Homo sapiens: one gene and its partners. The protein of the gene in region 2 interacts with the protein of the main gene of each other region in a pairwise test. Each region holds a gene or a part of one and is shown on either strand. Other genes may lie near its edges.

Region 1 (4,174 bases), on a different chromosome or scaffold from region 2:
CTACAGGTGGGGGTAAAGAGGTAGCATAGCCTGCCTGGTGTCACAGAGCTATGGGTGATGAGGGACAGCGCCTGTGTCCCTAGTGGCTACGCAGGGCACTGCCCCTCCCTGCACCACTGGATGCTCAGACTGAAGCTGCTGTGGAGAGCAGGAGCCCCAGGCTCCTCAATGATGTGGTCTGGACTTTTTAACACAGACATCAGGGGTGCGGAATCAGTCCACTTTATCCCCTTGTCTCTAACACAAGCTTCTGCAAACTTAGGCTCATACACAGTCTTCCCGATGTCCCTGCAAGCTCCTGACATTGCATGCAACATTTCGTAGGTTTGTGCGTTTTTCTGGGGAACGTAGATTTAGACTTTCATCAGATTCCTGAAGGAATATGTGACCTAAAAAAGGTTAAGAGCAGTCTGATGGTTCTGGAAGGAAGAAGTCTGAAATTGATTAAACAAGGCCTAGCTATGCCTGCTACCCTCGGTTTTCCTGCCATGGCCACACCAGGGCTCCCTTGCCCCTGAAATTCTCTGTGAAGGCTCACGAAGGGTCTCTCTACCAAGTTGCCCCCACAAAACCCAGTCTTAATGATATCCATCTCCTCTTGGGGCAAAACATCACTTTTATTTTCACTTTGAGCACTTGAGTCACATCTCAACTCCATCTCACTGTACTCATGACGCAGTCCTGCCAGGACCCAGTCTTGGTCACTCCCTGAAAGGCAGCTTCATGGCTAATCAGGGAATTCTTGGGTTCTAGGCGAGCACTGGAAAACACCTGGAGAGGGGTCCCTGCACAAGTTTGTAGACAGCCTCAGTCCTCCAGAGCAGCCCCAAACATTTTGTTCCTGCCCCTACCCGCAAAAAAAGCACATTCAGAAAAGCTGAAAGTCTGCAGATAAGAGTGAACACACGTACACATGGGGGTATATGTGCTCAAGGGAGGTGGTGCATGCCTGTAGGATAGCCTCTGTGTGTGTGTGTGTGTGTGTGTGTGTGTGTGTGTGTGTGCAAGCAGCCTTCCTGTATACAGTCACAGGGCCACCTCCCACACATATGCAGACACCAGCATGAGCTCACACATGCCTATAACACCCATACTCCCACATAACCCTGTGAGCCCAGGCCTCACACATGCACACACATGCGTGTGCACACACACGTACATCATCCTGTGTGCATGACCCCAGTCTTCACGTAGATGTGCATATCAAGACCTCACAGGAACACCATTGTGTCCGCATCTCATATGAGCATCCTCACACACCCCTAGACCTCACACACATGTGCCTTCCTATGTGCACACAGCTCTAACCTGCCATACATGTGCACATTTAATGAGTCATGTTTACACCCTTGTTCTCATTCAACCCAGCCAACAGCACTCTTGTAATACTCACACACATGCACCCTTGCAAGGCACACTTGCATTTTCAGGCCTTACACACGAAGCACCTCTTCCTGGTGCACATGCATGAATGCTTGCACACCCTGGCAGGGCACACCAGCGTACCCCAGTGTCACAAGCAATTTCCCTCAAAAGCCCTTCTACAGCCACACACATCACTCCTCAAAATGCACACTAGTACACACACATTCAGAACTCACACCAATACACACCTGCCTCCAGGGCCCCTCCCCCCGTGCTCCTGCTGCCTCAGCAGAAACCAACCAGGGCATCGGTGCTCCTTTGCCCACAAGGCAAACTCTGCCTCCAAAATGCACCCAACCCTTGACCCATCCCAGGATCCTCCAGAAACCCAGCTGGGGACATCCAGGAATCCCTCCCTGACACTCCACACCCTACTGGGCCACCCACAAGGGCCTCCCCTCTTTCCTCATCCTCCCATCCTTCTCTACACAGCAGTCATCAGGGCAGAAAATGAGCTCTGGGCTGGGCAACTTTGCTTGTCCAGAGCCACTGCACCCTTCATACCCTAGCCCCTGAAACAGCGGTGCTCCCCGCTACAGCTTTCCTGATTTCCTCTCCCCACCTCCCAACACCCGGGAAGCCTGTCATGCTCAGATATTAACCCCTACTGTACTGACGCCCTCACTCCTGGCAGGAGCTGAGAAAGGGGAGGTAGGGAGGGAGAAGTTGGCCACTCTGTACAGTCACTGTGGGTGTCTAAAGTCAGGAAGAACTACCGGGAGCTGGTGAATTCTCTGTCACTGGAGGTATCTAAGTGGAGGGCGGATGGCCACCTCAAGCAAAACTAGAGAAGGAATTCCAGCTTTGGACCCAGCTGACTAGGAAAATCCCTTTTTAACCCTAAGTCTCTAAGAATCTGTGTGTATCCAGGTTGTGTGTACTTGTGTGCATTTTGTGTGTATGTGTGTGCACTGGCATACACTGTCAACCCTTCATCCCTACATACACACTGGCCTGGCTAGCTTGGCACATCTGTGCACCCACAAACATACCCACGCCCGACTCTGGACACTCTGTACACAGGCAGGTGCCCCCAAACCCATGCAGCCTGCCTTCATCTGTGTACAAGGAATGCTCCCCAAGCACTGCAGGCACACACACCCCACTAGAGACCCTGACCTCCCCGCCCCCCATGCCTTCCAGGACTTCCTGAGGCACAACTCACTTGCCCAATTCCTCGAAGAGCTGGTACTCTTCCGTGAAGCGGGTGCAGGTGATGGTGGCCATCCTGGCGCTGGGCAGGCAGGTGAGGCTTGGGACTGGGGGACCAGGACTGAGGCGCTGCTGCTCTGCTCCCGAACCTAGGGACCACTTGCCTGCCCGTGCTGCCGAGTGCAAACAGAGAACCGGTTTGACTGACGAGCCCGGGGCTTCTGAGCAGGGCACTGTGGCTGCTCACAGCCTCGCGAGCCTTCGTCAGCATCCAGGTCCCCATGGCAACCACCTCCAAAACGCCCTGTTCCCGTTGCCCCGGTAACTGCCTCCCCAACACCTGCCTGCCTTCCACTGCGAAACCTGCTCTCGGACGCCCTGACCATACCGCACACAATACTGCAAGCCTGTGTGGGCCTGGGGGTGGGATGGACCCAGCACCCCTGGGGTGATGGACCCAAGGAGGGCCTGGAGGAGGTGGAATAGAGCAAACTTTGTCCACAAGTGATCTTTTCTCTTCCCACCTCCCCCACCTCCAACTGTGGGGCCCTTGTAGCAGACGGGATGGGATTAAGTGGGGCAAAAAGGCAGTTGCCATGGTAACAGCCAGTGGGTGCCGCATTCCGGATGGTCCCCAGGAACGAATGACAGGATGCAGTTACCCTGGCAACTTCATCTCTAGAGAGACAGGTATTGCCCCGTTGCCCTGGCAACAGCTGGGTTCTAAGGTTTACAGGGAAATGATGGCTAATTCACAGGGATGGCTCTCCCTCTGTGGATCACTGTAGTCTCTGTAACTGTCTCTCTGTTGCCCTCTGTTTTTTTTTTTTTTTTTTTTTTGCTTCTGCCTCTGTCTTTCTTGTTATGCTCGTGCTCTTTCAGCTCTCTTACCACCTTGTCCATCACACTAGCACTCCAGCTTGGCGCAGAAGTGCAGAGGACACCCCAGGATTCTGGAGGGAACAGCCCTGACTGCCTGCTCACCCCCACCTCTCACAGCTGTGACAGTTGCTCCCCTCCAGAGCCCTCCTCTGCAACCTCTCCCCAACCCCATGCCCCCAACGGGACCATGGAAATCTGGTCTCCTGGTGCTCATGTCCCAGTTTCTGCTTGTGCTTCCAGTCAAGGTAAAAAAAAAAAAAAAAAAAAAGGCGAGAGGGGGCTGTGGGGAGGTGAGCATAGCATGGCTTACCCGGGCTAGGCCACTGGCCAGAGACTTGCCATGAAATCTTCAATCCAAAATTTTCTGGGCACCTTCCCTGCCAACTTCAACTCTTCAGGGCATCAGCCATACCTACAGCCACAAGATCTTACTCCAAGGTCTTGGAGTTAGGAAGAAAAGGGACTGGAGTTTAAGACTAAGGATCTGAGTTTGAGCTCTGATTCCTGGACATTTATTATTTATATTATTTATTTATTTATTTATTTATTTTGGAGACAGAGTCTTACTCTGTCACCCAGGCTGGAGTACAGTGGTGCAAGCTCGGCTCACTGAAGCCTCCGTCTCCTGGGTTCAAGTGATTCTCCTGCCTCAGCCTCCCAAGTAGCTGGGACTACAGGCGCACACCACCACGTCTGGCTAATTTTTTGTGTTTTA
Region 2 (2,321 bases):
GGACAATATCCGCATCACTGGGAGGTGGTGCGGACTGGGCGAGGACCCTGCACAGGGCCCAGCCTTATATATTAATCTGTAACCAATACTTTTGTCTGTTTCCCCTTCTCCCAGGGGGCCAGGCAGGCCAGGCCCAGGCAAGGGCTGATCCTGGGCCATTGTGTGGGTGAAGAGATGGCATGAGGCAAGCCCACAAGACCAGGGGCCAAAATCCATGAAGCCCAGTTCTGGAGGCCCACCCAAGGTGTATGCGAGGCCAGAAACTGGCACCCAAGGAAAGACATGAAAGCTGGGGAGACAGAGGATCAGGAGCCAGGGGTGCACAGGGCAAGACAGGGAGAGGGCCACAAGGATGCAGAGACAGTGGTGCCGCGTGGGGGCCAGGCAGGCCTGCTCAGCACCCCACTGCCCGAGCCCAGGCCCTGCTGCCTCTGGGCCTCGCTGCCGGCACTTCTGGAGAACCTGGGTCGGCAGAGCCAGTCAGTGAGGAGGAGAACACAGGCGTTGAAGGAATTTATTCATGAGAAGACTGAGGGTCCATCAGGGAGACTGTCCAATGGTGACAAGCTCCAGAAGCCCGCGTCGCAACAGCCAGGAGGGCCAGGCCACCCCAGGCAGGAGGCAGTGGGCTGGCAGCCACCCTGGGCACAGAAGAGCAGACGCAGACAGTGCTGGGCAACGAGGGGCTTTCTTCATGGGCCCGCCTGCCCTGTCCCTCCCCCCAGGTCCCCACCTTCTAGGGTTAAAGTGCAGCTGGGAGGGAGGAGGCAGGCAGAATTGGGGAGCTAGAGAGAGCCCAAGTGAACCCTGACTGTCCACGCAAGTCCCATGTCCTCCTCGTCCTGGAGTTCCTCGAGGTTCAGCGAGCCCATCCCGCCTAGGGCCTCTGGAACCTTGGGGCGAGGGAGGTAACCCCTCACTCCCACACCCATCCGATATTTACAAAGAGCATCCCTGGGAGAGGGGAGAAGGCGGCCGGCTCTGGCAGCTTTCTGGGGGGCCTAGAACTTGGGGCACAGTGCGGGGCACTAACATTTCTAACAGGGAGAGGAGGGGGATGCTCGTCTTCAGGGATGGTCTTGGGGGGTTGTCCCCCTCCTTCTGGCCTTGGAAGACTCTTCCCTTTCCTTCTTCCCCTCCTCCCCTTCCCCCACCAGGCAAGCCAAGGAAGCCAGAGAAAGGCCCGGAGAGCCTGGCTCCCAGCTCCCGCGCCACGAGTCAGCAGGGTCCTGCCCAGGCCTGACTCCCAAACCCCTCCGCTGAGGGAGGGCCACTTCAGTGCCACTGGGGCGACGCTTCCCTGGAGATGGGAAGTGGGGTGAGAGGCCTTGGGGAAACCTGTGGGCCGGAGCCTCCTGTTTCTGCCAGTGGTCTTTCTAGCCCAGCCCTCCCTCAAGCCTGAGGCTGGCAAGATGCTCACACTAAGCCCGGGACCTCAGCAGTACCATCTGCACCCCCAGGGACCTTAGCCCGATTCATGCCATCTTGGATGGCCTCCCCCAGCACTCAATGGCTCAGCCAACTTCCTCCCCCTCCCACAGGCACATCTCTAGAAGCCAGACAGGAAGAGACCACCCCCCCCAAAAAAAGAGCCCTGAAGACCTCTGCTTCCTCCCCCCACTCTTGAATATATTAAATTGTGCAGCTTGGCTCTAACCCCGCCCCTTCAGATCTCCATGGCAACCGGGCAGCATTCAAGTCCGAGTCTGAAGCCAAGTCCATCCAGTGCCAAAGGGGGGCTTCAGCTTCTCCCCTGACTTCCCCAGAGAGTGAGACCCAACATTCCACAGGGGGATGAGAGGGGAGGAAGAGTTGGGGGGGCCTCAGTCCTCAGCCCCCTCTTCCTCTGTGTGGGGGGCCCCAGGGGGGTCCTCGGGCTCAGGGGTCTGCCCGCCAGGATGGGGGTGGGGATGGGGGTGAGGGTGGGTGCCGGGCTGGGATCCCGGCCCGTCCTCGCCCTGCACATAGACGCTCAGCCCCTCGTGACTAGGCTCCTTGCCGCAGGCCTGGCAGCTACAGTGCAGGATCTTCTCCACCAGCTTGTCCACCCTGGGCACCTCCTCGTGGCCCGGGCACTCCAGCGTCACCTGCAGAGGGCAAGAGAGAAGCAGAGGCATGTTCCCAAAGGTCTGGGGCAGGCAAGGCAGCCCCTAGGGTAATACTTCCTCATGGGATCAAGAATCCCAGAGCCCACCTGTGATGCCCAGTTAGCTCTGGGGTCCCATGGGGAGGGGGAAATTGAACCCCTGCACAAGCCACCAGAGCTGTCTCCTCACATCCAGTCCTGCCACCTTCCCACCCATTCCCCACCAGCAGCCACC
Region 3 (3,500 bases), on a different chromosome or scaffold from region 2:
ACCGCAGGTGCCGTCTCGGCCCACCACAAACTGCAACAGGAAAGAGGGAGTGGGCGATCATGGGAGAGTCAGCATTGCAAGGCAGCCCCTTGGCCCCAGGTTAGGCCCCTGGCTTCTCAGGGCACCTCTTCTCCAGGGACACCAGAGCACATTATTTCCTGAAGAGAACACTGCATGTGATTGCAGTGGCCTGAGAATATGAGAATCCAAGACTACTCTGCACTCACGACCTCTTTCCCGTAAAAGCTGTGGGCAGTGAAGGTGGAGCCCCAAGTTCCCGGACTGAGCAGTCCAGGGATTTCTGAGGAGTTCATCCTCAGGACGAGTCTGCCCAGCTGCCCTTGGGGCCTGGGTGAGGCCCTTCAGCCCTGTTTCCTGTCATAGCTCACATCGGGGTCTCCTCCCAATCTCTTGCCTTGTGTGCCAGAGGCTGGATCTTTACTCCCATTCTACAAAGAAACTCACTTCCCACAGAGCTTCTCCCCAAACTCACCCTTTGCAGGCCCTCCCCTCCCGCCCCCAGTGTCCCCTGCCTTGCTATCCTGAGACCAGTTCTCCATCATCTTGAATTCAGGTCCATGAAGCCCTGCTGGCTTCTCTGGTTCGCCTGATAATCTGCCCTGCTGATGAAAAGAACCTGGAGGTCAGCATAGACTAACCCATGAGAGGTGGTGGAGAGGGCTGCACCCACCCCCCACATTAGTACTTATCTGTGCCTGTCACTAAAAGGAAGGAAGGAAGGAAGGAAGGAAGGAAGGAAGGAAGGAAGGAAGGAAGGAAGGAAGGAAGGAAGGAAAGCGGTGTCTTTTGAAAACTGCTACCAAGGCTGAGTTCCAGATTCTGTGCATGTATTATATCGGTTCACCCCCACAGCTCCATGAAAGATGATAAGCCATTAGCACCACTGTAGAGGCTAAAACAGCTGGCCCAGCAGCTGGAGAGCGCATCAGAAATAACAGAATCAATATGCAAACCAATAAAAAGGAAAACCTGCAGAATGTAGGGACAGAGAGAAAGGAAAACGAGGTGTTGTCTAGATATGCTTATCAATGTGAGCTTTGCTAACCCAAAGTAGAGAGATGTTTTGTTTTTGCCTGCTGTTTTATACTACATGGCATATCATATAAAAGTGTAGTGACTTTAAAATAAACAAGACTAGGTTCAGGATTGGCATGTTGGGGGAATAAAAGGAGGATGGCAGAATGGGAATGAATGGTTTGACCTTGACTTCATCCCGTCTGCATGGGTATTTTTCTCTAGGTCAAAGTAAATTTCTTGCTTCTAGGCTGATGTCATGTAAATGAACATATATGAATTATTTTATCTCATCTTACAGTCTTTCTTCCATGGAGATGCTGGGCTGTTCTACTTCTCAGGGATTGAGGGAGGTATGTTGAAATCGCCAGGCCACGGGGGTGGACATCCAAAAAGCTGACAGCTCTGGGCATCAGAAATTATTATTTCAGCATGCATTAAGGATTTGTTCAGTGGGGCTGTTATACTCTCCTACTCCTGGCACACCCCCACCTCACAGGTGTGATGGGTGATGGGAAATGGGCCCCAGGTCTGGCCCAGACCTTCCTGGCACAGGCTGCAGGAAGGTTAGGGAGTTTGAGTTGGGTTCGGCCACTGGCTCCTGAGAAGAGTTCTGGCTGGTCCAGAGATTGACATCAACAGCACATCTCAGACCCCTCCAGCTCTCCTGACCCCTCAGACCCAGCCTCTTAGGCAGCAGAAACCAGTGAGTGCGCCTGCCAGACACAAGCACGTGCGGGCCTGGGCACCAGGCTGTGCCCGCTTGCCTACTCACTCTCTCGCTGGGGGCATGGCTGTGCTCTTGCAGGGCCACCTGGACGGCTTACCTGCAGGGACTTGTCGTACCAGCGATTGGCCCCGTTCTTGCTGTAGCCTCCGCCGTGAAGGAGCTGGAGTGCCCTGTGGGTGTCGCTGAGCTCCACGCCTCCTGGCGCGTCCAGGCATACAAGGCAGATGCAGCGCTCAATCATGTCCAGCGAGTCCCGGTTGGTGGAGTCTGCAGGGGAGGCAGGCACAGCCCTAGCACCTGTCCCGCTCCAGGCCAGTCTTCCCTCCTCAGAGCCCCACACAGGGCAGGGCAGCCCTGTCTTCTGGGATCACAACAAGACCCAGGTCTTGAGCCAGCCCTGACCCCCCACCTTGCCCCACTGTGGGTGGGCAGTGAAGTCAGCCAGAGTGTCCTGAGCCTCTGTCCTACCCCAGGATCCCAGCTCATTCGCACGGTCCCTGCAGGAGCCCTGCTCTCCAGCTGTGACCAGCTCTCCTCCAGATGTGTGGGCTATTGGTCATGCATGCCAAGATGAAGCGGGATGCTTAGACCCTCATGTCAGCCCACATCAGTGGAAGGGCCCTTAATCCCCCACCCAACAGCACCCTCCACTGGGGCTCCTGTGAGCCACATCTGTGTGTAGGCATGCTTGTTTGTGCTGAACTATGACTTTCAGACATCTAAACTGCAATTTCAAAATTGTTGTTGCAATTTCAAAATTAGGCAATTTCACATTAAAACCTGAAGGAAGTGTATTGGTCACCTCCCTGCCCCCAAGCTGTTGGTTCAGAGGCAGAGCTGCAGGCAGAAGGGCCAGGCTGCCTTGAACCCACATCTGGATGAGCTTGTAGGGGCAGTTTTGGACTCATGGATCCAAAGGAGCTCCAAGCCTGGCCCACAGCTGGCTTTTGTGTTAGCCTCTACCAATTCCCAGGCTCCTCTAGACATTCTTCTAGAGTAAGCAGGTCTCAAAAGGGAATCCCCCTCCCTGGTGGCACTGGAAGAGTACAGACAAGGACGGCTCTTCAGGAGCGGGAGTCAGGCACAGAGCACGTGATTTCACCAAGGACACATGCGTTCCTCCCAGAGAGCACCAGAAGCTGCCCTCCCTGGCAGCTTCCTCCACAGGGCACAGGGAGGTTCACCAAGCCCACCCGGCAGGACCTGTTGGGGGCCAGGCCTGCTCCCGCTGCGTGTTCCCATTTCTTCCAAACAGGAGTCTATTGTGCTGACGATGTTCTCTCCACTGCTCAGTACTGGGTGTGGGGGTACACAGCCTGCCTCTTGGTTTAAAGTTCACCAAAAGTTAAAAAGTCCACCCAAAGTTTAACATTTTGGTTTAAAATTCCAAGGAGTCACTTCAAGACCCAATGGTGAGGGCTGCGTATCACCAGGAGAGCCTGACCTTGGGGGCTGGATGCTGGGACAGGATGAGGCACCCAGGGCAGGGGTGAGAGTGCTCTGTGTGTGGGAAGATGGGTGCATGGCATTTGCAGGGAAAGGTTCATTACATGGTAGAGACTCCTAGTTGCACACCACATGTCCTTTCTTTCCTTGCTTGTAGAACCCCTGGTTTTTAGCTTGGTACATGGATAACAAACTAGAGCTATACTTCCCAGCCTCCCTTACAGCTAGGGGTAACCAGGTGTCTAAATTCTATGAGCAAGATCTCAAAAAACTACACCACAGCTTCCGG
Region 4 (3,500 bases), on a different chromosome or scaffold from region 2:
TTTTTTTTTTTTGAGACTGCGTCTCACTCTGTTGCCCAGGCTGGAGTGCAATGGCGCGATCTCCACTCACTGCAACTGCTGCCTCCCGGATTTTTTTTTTTTTTTTTTTTTAGTAGAGAAAGGGATTCACCATGTTGGCCAGGCTGGTCTCGAACTCCTGACCTCAGGTGATTCACCCGCCTCGGCCTCCCAAAATGCTGGGATTACAGGTGTGAGCCACCACACCTGGCTTTGGTTCCCTTTAAAGAAGGGTTTCTTGGCCAGGCACGGTGGCTCACGCCTATAATCCCAGCACTTTGGGAGGCCGAGGCTGGTGGATCACGAAGTCAGGAGATCGAGACCATCCTGGCTAACACGGTGAAATCCCGTCTCTACTAAAAATACAAAAAATTAGCCAGGTATGGTGGCATGCGCCTGTAGTCCCAGCTACTCGGGAGGCTGAGGCAGGAGAGTTGCGTGAACCCAGGCGGCAGAGCTTGCAGTGAGCCGAGATCGCGCCCGCCACTGCACTCCAGCCTGGGTGACAGGGCGAAGATTCTGTCTCAAAAAAAAAGAGAAGGGTTTCTTAACCTTGGGCCTGTGGATAGAAGTCAGCAGGTCTATGAACTTGGGGGAAAAAAAATCAGCCTTTTTTTACTAACCTCTAACTGAAATGTAGCTTTTCCTTTGATGGAAACCTAGGCGACGGTCCCCAACAGGACCTGCAGTACCTGTGATCTGTCGACAGTAGGGATCACAGGTATTTTCATAACACACCCTAGTTGCTGCAGATATTACAGCTCGCAATTTCGGGGGTTGCTGGACCCACCACTACATCTTAGTGAATGCGTTAAGAAAGCAGCTCACAGAACGCTACATCACAGATTCTTTTTTTAAAATACTCTGACAGCTGTTTTCTAAAATAATCAGCTTCCTTTTTGATCTTATGGATTTTATTTTATGCGCTTAAAGCCATTATGCTGAGAAGTCTGTAGGCTTCTCCAGAATGCCAAAGGGGTCCATGGCAAACAAAAAAAAAAGGCTAAGGACTCTGGTTGATTAAAGAAAACATGCTGAGCAAACTGACTTAAGACTCTGGACACTGGATGGGGCTAGCTGCTGAGCAGGGATAGGACACCGTGCCGCCTGCCGTGAGCCATGGAGGAGGTTGGCAGCAAAGCCAGGCCCAGGATCCAGGGACTCCAATTCCTGCCCCCGACACCTTGCCTCCCTGGTCCAGGACCAGCCCCGCCCCCCCACCTCACCTTATCCATCATGGCAAAGATCCGGTCCACCCTCTTCTCAGGAGTGTTCTCCTCCTCTGGGAGCTCCACGGTATTCCCCTGCAGGGACGGACAAGGCGGGGGTGGGCCCTGGCACTCTGGGCTTTGGGCTCTTGGCCACGCATTTGCCCCCCAGACCTGGCAGTTTCCAGATGAGGGCCGCCCCCCTCTTCTTTCCCCTCCCCATCCCTGCCATTGTGCCCTGGAACATCCCACACCCCAGCCCCACTATCTACCAGCTTGTGCCTGCCTGCCCAGGCAGAGATGTACAGAACGGCTCAGCCAGTGACCCCTGCTTCCACCCTGGGCAGGAGCATGGCTGCACAAGTGCTCTCTCTCTGTCTCTCAGTCACTGGCTTTGCCCCTCCTGCCACCCCTAACCACACGAGACCCGGCTTCTCACCACCATCTGGTAAATGGCATCCACAATGTCCAGCATCTCATTCCTGGTGATGTAGCCATCATTGTCCAAGTCGTAGAGCTTGAAGGCCCCTGTAAGCAAGCAGCACTGCTGAGTGATCCTGGGCTGGGGCAGTGGGGAGGGGTCTTCAACTCGCCCCTCCTCTCTGTACCCCAACATGAAGTCAGCGACCGGATGGCCCATTCCTCATCAGGTCAACTAATATTTACATCAGGATAGACAGGGACAGACACACACACACCATTGCAACTAGGGTTAAAAAAAATAAGGCTGGGCATGGTGGCTCACACCTGTAATCCCAGGACTTTGGGAGGCTGAGGTGAGCAGACTGCTTGAGCCCAGGAGTTCGAGACCAGCCTGGACAACATGGCAAAACCCCGTCTCTACAAAAATACAAAAATTAGCCAGGCCTGGTGGCGGTGCCTGTAGTTCCAGCTACTTGGGAGGTTGAGGTGGGAGGATGGCTTGAGCCCAGGAGGCGAAGTTTGCAATAAGCCGAGATCAAGCCACTGCACTCCAGCCTGGGTGACAGAGCAAGTCTCTCTCCCTCTCTCTCTCTGTATATACATATATATATACGTATATATATATACACATATATATATACGTATATATATATACACACACACATATATATATTTATAGATACATAATTTATATTTATGTATATATATTTATAGATACATAATTTATATTTATGTATATATATTTATATACATAATTTATATTTATGTATATATATTTATATACATAATTTATATTTATGTATATATATTTATATATACATAATTTATATTTATGTATATATATTTATATATACATAATTTATATTTATGTATTATGTATATATATTTATATATACATAATTTATATTTATGTATATATATTTATATATACATAATTTATATTTATGTATATATATTTATATATACATAATTTATATTTATGTGTATATATATATTTATTTATTTATAAATTAAAAATAACAGGGCCAGGCACAGTGACTCACCCCTATAATCCCAGCACTTTGGGAGGCCGAGGCGGGCAGATCACCTGAGGTCAGGAGTTGGAGAACAGCCTGGCCAACAGGATGAAACCCCTTCTCTACTAAAAATACAAAAATTAGCCAGGTGTGGTGGCGGGCGCCTGTAGTTCCAGCTACTTGGGAGGAGGTGAGAGGATGGCTTGAGCCCAGGAGGCGAAGGTTGCAATAAGCCGAGATCGAACTACTGCACTCTAGCCTGGGTGACAGAGCAAGACTCTCTCTTTCTCTCTCTCTCTCTCTCTCTCTCTCTCTCTCTCTCTCTATATATATATATATATATATATATATATATATATATGATATTTTATATATATATTAAATATTTTATATATATATATATTAAAAATAACAGGGCCAGGCACGGTGGCTCACACCTGTAATTCCAGCACTTTGGAAGGCCAAGGTGGGTGGATCATCTGAGGTCAGGAGTTCGAGACCAGCCTGGCCAACATGGCGAAACCCCATTTCTACTAAAAACACAAAAATTAGCCAGGTGTGGTGGCACATGCCTGTAATCCCAGCTACTTGGGAGGCTGAAGCAGGAGAATTGCTTGAACCCAGGAGGCAGAGATTGTAGTGGGCCGAGATTGTGCCACTGCACTCCAGCCTGAGCAACAGAGCGAGACTCTGTCTATAAATAAATAAACAAATAAAATAAAGGGATGGGGCATTGGGCTGCCAGGGCCGAGGTATCAGTGGCTGGAGCTGAGTGCGTGGGAGAGCCCGGGGCCTGGGATGTTACCCAGAGGAGCACCCCTCTCCTTCCCCCAAC

What was found. Proteins that work in one complex are often made in the same cells at the same time.
Region 1: the proteins of NBL1 (region 2) and CAMK2A interact in binary tests that used the Homo sapiens proteins (3 or more experiments, as listed by UniProt).
Region 3: the proteins of NBL1 (region 2) and CHAT interact in binary tests that used the Homo sapiens proteins (3 or more experiments, as listed by UniProt).
Region 4: the proteins of NBL1 (region 2) and NCS1 interact in binary tests that used the Homo sapiens proteins (3 or more experiments, as listed by UniProt).

What each region holds. Positions count from the first base shown.
Region 1 is NC_000005.10:150,286,974-150,291,147, forward strand, and holds the start of CAMK2A (calcium/calmodulin-dependent protein kinase type II subunit alpha), read right to left. Parts: upstream 2,801-4,174; 5' UTR 2,653-2,800; coding exon 2,591-2,652; intron 1-2,590. UniProt on the Homo sapiens protein: Calcium/calmodulin-dependent protein kinase that functions autonomously after Ca(2+)/calmodulin-binding and autophosphorylation, and is involved in various processes, such as synaptic plasticity, neurotransmitter release and long-term potentiation.
Region 2 is NC_000001.11:19,656,632-19,658,952, reverse strand, and holds the end of NBL1 (neuroblastoma suppressor of tumorigenicity 1 isoform 2 precursor), read right to left. Parts: intron 2,088-2,321; coding exon 1,824-2,087; 3' UTR 501-1,823; downstream 1-500. Other genes in the region: MICOS10-NBL1 (neuroblastoma suppressor of tumorigenicity 1 isoform a precursor), read right to left, coding at 1,824-2,087. UniProt on the Homo sapiens protein: Possible candidate as a tumor suppressor gene of neuroblastoma. May play an important role in preventing cells from entering the final stage (G1/S) of the transformation process.
Region 3 is NC_000010.11:49,645,037-49,648,536, reverse strand, and holds part of CHAT (choline O-acetyltransferase), read right to left. Parts: intron 2,033-3,500; coding exon 1,863-2,032; intron 31-1,862; coding exon 1-30. UniProt on the Homo sapiens protein: Catalyzes the reversible synthesis of acetylcholine (ACh) from acetyl CoA and choline at cholinergic synapses.
Region 4 is NC_000009.12:130,220,904-130,224,403, reverse strand, and holds part of NCS1 (neuronal calcium sensor 1), read right to left. Parts: intron 1,755-3,500; coding exon 1,666-1,754; intron 1,323-1,665; coding exon 1,245-1,322; intron 1-1,244. UniProt on the Homo sapiens protein: Neuronal calcium sensor, regulator of G protein-coupled receptor phosphorylation in a calcium dependent manner. Directly regulates GRK1 (RHOK), but not GRK2 to GRK5. Can substitute for calmodulin. Stimulates PI4KB kinase activity.